Linked DNA regions of Homo sapiens: region 2 is reported to be linked to region 1. The links are microRNA targets in miRTarBase. Many come from high-throughput screens and were not tested one by one. Region 1 holds a microRNA gene; the other region holds the end of a gene's coding sequence.
The links. Region 1 holds the annotated microRNA hsa-miR-1267 (CCUGUUGAAGUGUAAUCCCCA, at 2,009-2,029, opposite strand). A microRNA usually pairs through its seed, bases 2 to 8, with sites in the 3' UTR of a target mRNA and lowers its output. Matches are read on the target gene's strand: a 7mer-m8 pairs with bases 2 to 8, a 7mer-A1 pairs with bases 2 to 7 and ends in A, and an 8mer does both.

Region 2: the mRNA of CPEB4 is a reported target of hsa-miR-1267. Seed matches in the 3' UTR shown: 7mer-A1 at 2,661-2,667.

Annotation. Positions count from the first base shown.
Region 1 is chr13:107,529,209-107,533,746 of GRCh38, forward strand. It overlaps MIR1267 (microRNA 1267), which reads right to left and starts at 2,040; the gene lies at 1,963-2,040. All of the region lies in intron 1 of NALF1 (NALCN channel auxiliary factor 1), which reads right to left. It overlaps LOC112268110 (a long non-coding RNA gene), which reads right to left. Exons shown (of 3, transcript XR_002957493.2): 1 at 1-4,538.
Region 2 is chr5:173,955,809-173,959,808 of GRCh38, reverse strand. CPEB4 (cytoplasmic polyadenylation element binding protein 4) reads right to left here. Exons shown (of 10, transcript NM_030627.4): 10 at 1-3,899. The coding sequence ends at 3,672. Among named protein-coding and RNA genes, the nearest start is that of C5orf47, 31 kb to the left of the region's middle.

The sequences.
Region 1 (4,538 bases):
CTGGCTGACTCTCAGCAAGTGAAGGAATGGGTGAATACCTGCATAGTGAATAATTATTCAAGAGCAGAGAAACGAGACCATAGCTCTGGTATTAACAAGTTGTATGACTTTCAGAATCACTTCACCGATCCAGGCCTTCAGATAAAAAAGATGAGTAGCAATTGGGTAGGCAGTCAGGAAAGAGAATGCCCCAGATGGCAGAAAGGGAATTTGAAAACGGAGATTTAAGCAAGCAAAGTACATTAATGAAACAGCAAATTATTTGGTAATCTTAGATGTTCCTCAAACTTTCTGCTTTTGACTTTTCATACAACCCTCAATATTCACACTATATGTCCTAGATGTGTGCAATTCAGTGGTCTAATCTGGACTTCCAGATAAAAGGCCAGCAAGGCTGACTTCCAGCTCTTCCAAGATGGCCCCGCAGGACAGTAGCCAACCATTCACCAGCTTGGCTCCCATTGCAATGTGTGTGTGATGATTGGAAGATGTGATGAATTAATTACATCTTTTTCCTTTTTTTAGATCTTCCGTAAGCTCTGACTGCCATGTGAGAGAGGAACGGGCATCACCTGAAGGAAAGGATGATGTCTCAGGACTTTCTAAGAGCAACAGAATGTTGGAAACTATCCATGGTAGGGATGCAGTTGGCTAGTTACAATGCTTGACATCCCTTCATCTAGTGGCCATGGGACTCCAAGGTATCTTTCCATAAAGAACCAAAGCCAAACTCACAATCTGCCTAAACTGCTATTCTCAGCTTTCAAGAGGAAGATGACTGTTAATACCCAAGAGTAAGAATAAGAAGCAAGGGTTCTATAGCTAACTCATGCCTTCTTTCCACAGCTCACTCTTATTCAGCAATATGGGCTCCCTTAGCTCCAACCCTCAAATCCCCACCTGGGCACCTTTACCTTGTTCTCTCTCCACCCTGGGACACTCTCTCCTGCCTATTAATGAGGCAGGCTCAGTCTTATGCTTTATAGCTCAGTCATCTACTTAAGGAGGCCTAAAAGCTCTGTCCAAAGACAAAACCTCCATCCTAGCAAGATAGTCTGCCTTTGTTTACTTCATAGCATATATCCCAATCCATAATTATTTTTATATTTGTTTCCTATTTACTACCTATATCCACCACTAGCATGGATACTTTTAAGCTACTTGATCATCTACTATATCCCCAGAGCCATGAAAACATCATACATAGTAAGTGCTCAGCAAATTACTTGCTGAATGAATGAAGTATATCCATATAGACTGAAGCAAAATCTAAGACATTCCTCTAAATTTAATATTTGTAAGATTTTTTTTAAATGACAAGATTTTTATGTATGACCTGTGATCATTTTAGTATATTCATAACATGTGGATGTATGCAGAAGATGGACTCATTCCACACAAAAATGCCATTGTACAAATACTATCTGTTGAGGCAGCCCAGCAGGTACTACATGACAAATAGGAGGCAAAAATAATATTGCAAATCACCACAGCTATAGAGAAAACATAGTATCACTTACATCATATTGATGTAAGCTGAAATCTGTCCAGAGCTGAGGCTAATCATTTGTGAAAAGCAGCTGACAATATAGAAAGAACAAGCATCTAAGTTATATATGAACTATTTTCACCATTCTCCTTATAAAGTTTTAAAAATAATATGAAAACCAGCAGGATTGCCTGAAATGTGAAAAGAACACTGACGATTTTTATTGTGATTTTTAGTGGAAACATTTTAGTTATGTAAAAACTGTTAAAGGGATAGTCTTTGTACCCTAAAAAAGAACTCTGCTGAACATTGTCATTCACATATATATATATATATACATCTGAGATATTTTATTAGGATGCATTCCTATATTAGGAATTACAGAACTAAAGAGGATGGACTTTTAACATATATTTTAACATAGCTCTCCAGAAATAAAAAGTTCTTGACCACTGATGGAGTCCGGATATTTGTCCTCATCCAAATCTCATGTTGAAATGTAATCCCCAATGCTGGAGGTGGGGATTACACTTCAACAGGAGATTTGGGAGGTATTTGGATCACGGAGGCAGATCCCTCATGAATAGCTTGGGCCATCCTCTTGGTGATGAGTGAGCTCTTCTTCTGAGTGTATGGCACCTTACCCCCAACTCTCTCTCTTTTGTTCTGGCTCTGGTCACGTGACAAAGACTGTTCCTTCTTCACCTTTCACCATGATTGTAAGCTCCTGAGGACTCCCCAGAAGCCGAGCAGATGCCAGAACCATGGGTCCTATAAAGCCTGAAGAATCATGAGCCAATTAAACCTCTTTGTTTTATAAATTATGCAATCACAGGTATTCCTTTATAGCAATGCAAGAATGGTCTAATATAATCAGTGACACTAATCATCAATATTATCTTATTAATTTTCCCAGTTTATTCAACATCAAAACCAGTACATTTTAGTTAAACTCACATTAAATGTTTGTATTTTTTTCATTTTATGAGTTGTCTGTCTGTATTTTTTTCCACTTTTATCTCAGTATGCTCATCTTCTTTTGTTGTTGTTTGACTGGAATACGTGTTGCAAGTAATTTTTCCAGCTTCTCATTTGCATCTTTTTTATGATGGTGTTAGATATGCCAAAGTTTTGTGTCATGTGAAGTATTATCTACTGATACTCCCCTTAGAATTTTTAAAAATTAATTTTATGCTTATAAACTTCTCTGCCATTTTGCAATCTTCTATTTACGTATTTGTTTTCTAGATGACTAACATGGCTTTTTCACAATCAAGTTCATAACGCAGCTGAATTTGCATACTTACCTAACTTGAAAATTTTCTCTCAAATAGTGAGTTATCCTAGAAGCATTTAATAGAAAATGCTTTGTTTCTTAACTGACTTACAAGCTACCCTTTTGTATACTAAATCCTTTGATGTGCTAGGTTCTCCTCCAAGTTTCTTGCAGACAACCAAGAACAAAATGAAAGAGAAAGAAAGTGAACAAAAGTAGAGTTTAAAAAGCTACAGCCTTTCAAGGTCAACATTTTAAAGTAAAACAGCATCTTTTTCTTTGAAATCTTATGGATTCCCACAGTGTAAAACATGCTTCTATCTAATAATCAGTATTAAAGAATCTATTAAGAAATTTCAATGATTTTTGTTTCCCTTGGCTGAGCTCTCATTATGGACTGTTTTGCTGCTTCCTTTCTCTATGAAGAAAAATCATTCATTGCTAGTGTTTTCTCAGTGTTACAATGCTTTTCCAATAAGCGTTCATTCTAGTGGTGTGTGCTTCCTCATCAACAAACATGAAATTTATCTTCTTAAATATCAAGAGTTCAGGTTATTACAAAACCTAAGGCTTACAGTGTGGTATAGTCCAAAATCATACTCCATAAACTACTGGAAAATTAATCAAATTATATTACATGAAGTTTTTATATACTCATATCTTTTGACTTGAGGTATTTCAAATATTTGAGAATCTCTTATAGACCTCATTTCAACTTTAATTTTTCTGTCTCATGTGTTTGGTCCATTTATGTGATTTGCCTGGGACATTAATGAAATTCTCAAGAATGTTAATTTTCAGAAAATATAAATCCCTGAAAAGTTAGCAATTTAGAGATTATTCAGGAATATAATTTTGTGCTAGTTTCTAACGTAATATTGCAATTATATTAACTGAAGACAAAATATTGCCACCTAGACTTCAAAAAACATCTTAAAGGTAGTTGCAGAACTGTTAAGAAAACAACCTAAAAACAGTAGCCATTAACATATTAAAAATGATATAAAAATTAAGAATACATGCTAAGCTGGAAATTTAAAACATCATTTAGAAACCAGACACTTTGACTGGAGGCAGCTGTTGCCTCTCTTTTTGACTTAAACTTTTATTTAACTCATTCTACTAAAATTAATATCCCCACGAAAAGAGAGTTATAACCATAACTTTTAATGAGGCTCAGTTTTGCCCCTTTCTTTTTTCTCTGTTTTACATATTTTGTTTGTAAAGTGACTGTTAGAAACATTTATAGAAATTTACACATTTGAAATGCAGAGTGCTATAATTACGTGAGTGTAGGTTCTTTGCTATGGTTTGAATGTCAGATCCTCCAAAATTCATGTTAAAACCAAATCACCACAGTGACAGCATTGAAAGACAGGGCCCCTGGAAGGTGATTAGGTCATGAGGCTCCTTCACCATAAATGGATAAGGCCCTTCTGAAAAGGGCTTTCAGGTCTCTGCCATGAGAGGACACAGCCTTCCTCCCCTACAGAGGAGGCAGCCCTCATCCAACAACCGAACATGCCTGCACCTTGATCTTGGACTTCCCTGCCTTTTGAATGGTAAGAAAATAAATTTCTGTTCTTTATAAAGTACACAGTGTATGGTATTTTGCTACAGCAGCACAAACAAATGAAGATATTCTTTAATAACTGTTCAAATTAGAGATTCTGTGAATCACATAATTACCAGGAAAGGACTTGAGGAAGTATTCCAAAGGCCATCTTTCAGAAAACAAAACAAAACACACTCTCCAACAAAGCAACACCCCCA
Region 2 (4,000 bases), not on the chromosome of region 1:
GAATACAATATTGTCCCGATTCTTACAATGCTATCAATCACAGTAGCTTTAAAATAATAAAATAAAGCAAATGACCAAAACCTCTTTTATTCCATTTTTAAAAATAATCTCAAATTTACATTAGTAGAAAGATTGATTTCTGATTCTTTTCTTTAGAAACACCAGCAAGAAAGAGGATTACTCTTAACAGTAGAAAATGACATTTTTAAATGTCTGCAATTAAAAACAAAGAATTACACTGCAAAGATCTTTCAAAAGTTTGAAATAAGTATTGCACATAACTTGAAGTTAACTTGCCACAATTCATCACATTCAAGTTTTAAATCACCTTTTAACAGAAGATTCAACTCTTCAAAACAAAAGGGGTGAATTATCAAGTCTTTCCAACAGCACTCTCATAAAATGCTAAATTCATTCACTGCAAGTTTTATTTTGCATTCTGCAGAGGTCTGTGTATGGAGAAGTATATATATTATACCAAAGCGCAGGGACCAGAAGGGGAAAGGAGAGGGTTCCTTTACATAGAAAATAATCAGAAACACTTTATTTTACATTGCAAAAATCACCATGTAATTACTCTGTAACTACATTGTAAGTACATGGCTGGCGCCATGCTAGTGCGCTAGAACTACATGCTTGGTGAATTGAAGTGATGCCCTACAATCTGTAAACTAATTACATGTTAATTATGTTTGAGTTACATGGTAACTCCCAACTACAATCCCATGTAATCTGAAGAACATGTAATCATAAAGTTCAGAGTAATAGATAATCATTGTTTATGCCCTGTAAATTGAAGTGTAACCAATAATCTGTAAACACACTTGTCACACAATCACAAGTAAATATTAGTAGAATAACAATTTCTTACATTAGTCATGCACACTAACATTACACACCTGTCCCAAGGCAGGCTATTTTTTTTCCTTATATATAATTTAAAAGAGCAGACATCTCTGAATCAAACACTTAACATCAATTTATTAATATTAAAAATGGCTAAACATTCACCAAAAATGTCTGCATTTTATGAATAATTTTAAAAACTTAGTAAGAAGCTGTAGACAATTTTGTTATTTTAATTTCTACCTTATGCTTATGCATTTAATTTTTTTTTTAGGAACTACAGTGTTATCTGTCATTTTCATGCGAATTTTTTTCATTAATTTGTGACTTTACATAGACTATTTCTTAAATTATAGGTACACCAATAGCTGGTGCTGGGGAAGGATGTTTAAGCAACATGCTTTCTCTTCTCTGCAGACTCTAAAATAGCATTGCCAGTGCACGACATTCATAATTTAAAATGTATGCAGAGCACTGAAATGTATAAAAAGCAGAATATAAGAAAATAAAATTTATTAAAATTATTTATATTAAAAAATGAAGTATATGAAGATCTCTCAGTAATAAAAGTACAAAAAGCTACTCTTTGCAATATGAAAAATTGAGGTATTGCATAAAGAGATATCCCGTCAGTGAAAAGTGTGCCTAAAAATGTTCACTGTTGGAAAAACAAGATATACAAAAGTAGTGCATAACAAATATACATTATGTGCATGACAAAATAAGTTAGCTACAAAAACACTGTACCGAAATTCAGCAGGTCATGTACAAAGGGAAAAATTATTATTCAAAGCTAGTTCTCAAACAGTGTTATTTCTTGTTAACTCATCACACCTGTTTACTGAGTAGGAACAGCACGATAGCACACCCCAAGCCACCTACAAGCATTTAAAAGAGTAAAAAGAGGCAAATGAACATTCCAATTAGAATCATGTAGTTCAGGAGAAAAGAAAAAAAAGTCCCTGACCAGCTACACAAGAGCACCCTCCATTCGCATGACTGCTTTCAGTATTTGCAGGGAATTCTTTAAAAGCAGCTCCCTTTCTATGTTTGAATATTAGACAGCAAATGCCTCCATTTTGACCTTTGGAACTTAACAGGTATAGTTCATTAAAGCCTGTATTAAAAGTAAAGGGCTGCTTTTCCTAAAGATCATCCATAGGGGTCATAAGCCAGGTGGTTCCACAGCAGTGCTGGGGCAAGTCTTTGGTTTTGAAGGATCCAAGATGGTACTGTTAGGTAGCGCAACTAGCAAGATTGCCATTCGATCATATTATTTCATGTTTTGCCCACTGATAATAAACCTTTTAATGATGGATAGGGCATTTAATAAGAGAATGTCAATTAAAATAAAAGTTACTTCCATGACTAGGGCTTCAAGAGACTATTTTAAATTTACCCCTGAAGCATACTGTTCAACACATAACGCCTTTCAAAGCTAGAATTTTATTTATAATAAAGCATGCATTACTTGATGAAGTTGGCACTTCAAACACTGACTATGTCCCATGCTAAATTCGGAAACTGTAATGTTATTTTAGTTTATAGGAAGAGTAAGATAAACATACGTACCTTTGCACAGATTTACACAGTTACTTAGTTCAACAGTGCAAAACACTTTGCAACTACTTCACTTTTTTTAACTGTTTTTTCATTTTCTATGTTACAACTAAATTACAGGATACCCAAAGTAACTTTAAATCTAAAAGTAAGCCAATCAGCAGCCAAATTATATATTGGTTTTGTCTTCCAGTTTTGGCTACAAGTGTACTGTAACACAAAATCAAAAATGATATCCTTGAGGTATCTCTAGATCTGTTGTTGTTTTTTAACGTCAAAATGGAGAGCAAAGGCTGACATCTGATGAGTATTAGTAAATTAGGATATAGAGTTTATATATAAACATCAAAAATAACATTTATACATTTATTCTTCAGGAGAGGAAATGCTAGGTTTCCCACCAGTTGTCATTAATTCTAGCTTTGGTAGGTTTCCTGGGGCTTTGACCAGATAAGTAAGTTAAATAAATAAGTGCACTCCCCTCAGTAGTAAATTTACCCAATTTTTACATTCTGAATTTTAAAAATTGTTTAAGAGAAAATAAACCTAGCTCTGCCTACTTTACTATTTTTTTTTTATTTTTTCTGATGTGGTGGTAACTTTTTGAGGGATAATGAAATTATGTTCAGCCTCAAAACCCTGAAAATTAATTATAATGCTGCTCAGTCTTGCTTATGCATTTGTTTGCTCTAACATGCTCTTTCCATTAAAAATTGTTAACTTCCTCCATTGCTGTTAAAAAAATTAAAAAGGGATGGAAAAAAGAGAGAGACAAAAAAGATGAAAAAAAAAAAAAAAAGAAAGGAAAAGGCAAAAGCACTTCCCTGGGGGAAAAACTGTCAGATAGACCGATAGTGTTATTGTTGCATGGTTATTTTAATAAAAGTATTCTTATATGTTATATTATTAACAATAATTTAATTAAAAACCCAAAATACTCTATTGTTTCATTTCTCTTTTAATATTTCTCTCTCTCCTCTAAGAAAATGTTGCAGGAAGTTTGGATCCTCTTGGTTTCCAGCAAAACAAGAGAATAAAACTTCCATGCAACCCGATGGCAATACGAAAAAGGAGTTCATATTGTTTGCAGTGACACAAGAATCTACAAAACACCTATATTATAGGTCATTCTTTTCATTATACTATAGTTAAGTTACAGACTGCTACAAAAGGACATGCCAGCGTGAAGAGGTTGAGGAAGGGGTCAGAATGAACAGAAGAGTGCACTTATTCTGAGGCCTGAAAATGAGCACTGCAGTTATCCTTTAGTTCCAGCGGAATGAAATATGCCGAGGGCGGTCACCGCCTTCCTTCACCAGGGGCTTGTGGAATTCCCTGCCAGCACGAGAATGGATAGCAGCCCAGCAATATTCACAGTAATACTGCAGACAGGTAACATTAGCACAGAAAAATGGAGCAAATTTCCCCCCACAACGGGCCCCCTGACATTCATCACACAGCTGATCATCCAAGACATATGGCTTAACTTCCACCTGCAATCAAAAATAAGAGTTTACATTTTTCAGTGACTAGGCCAGCAATGCTTACCATACATGTACATTTCCACCCACTATCTGAATGAATCTGTTCCAAG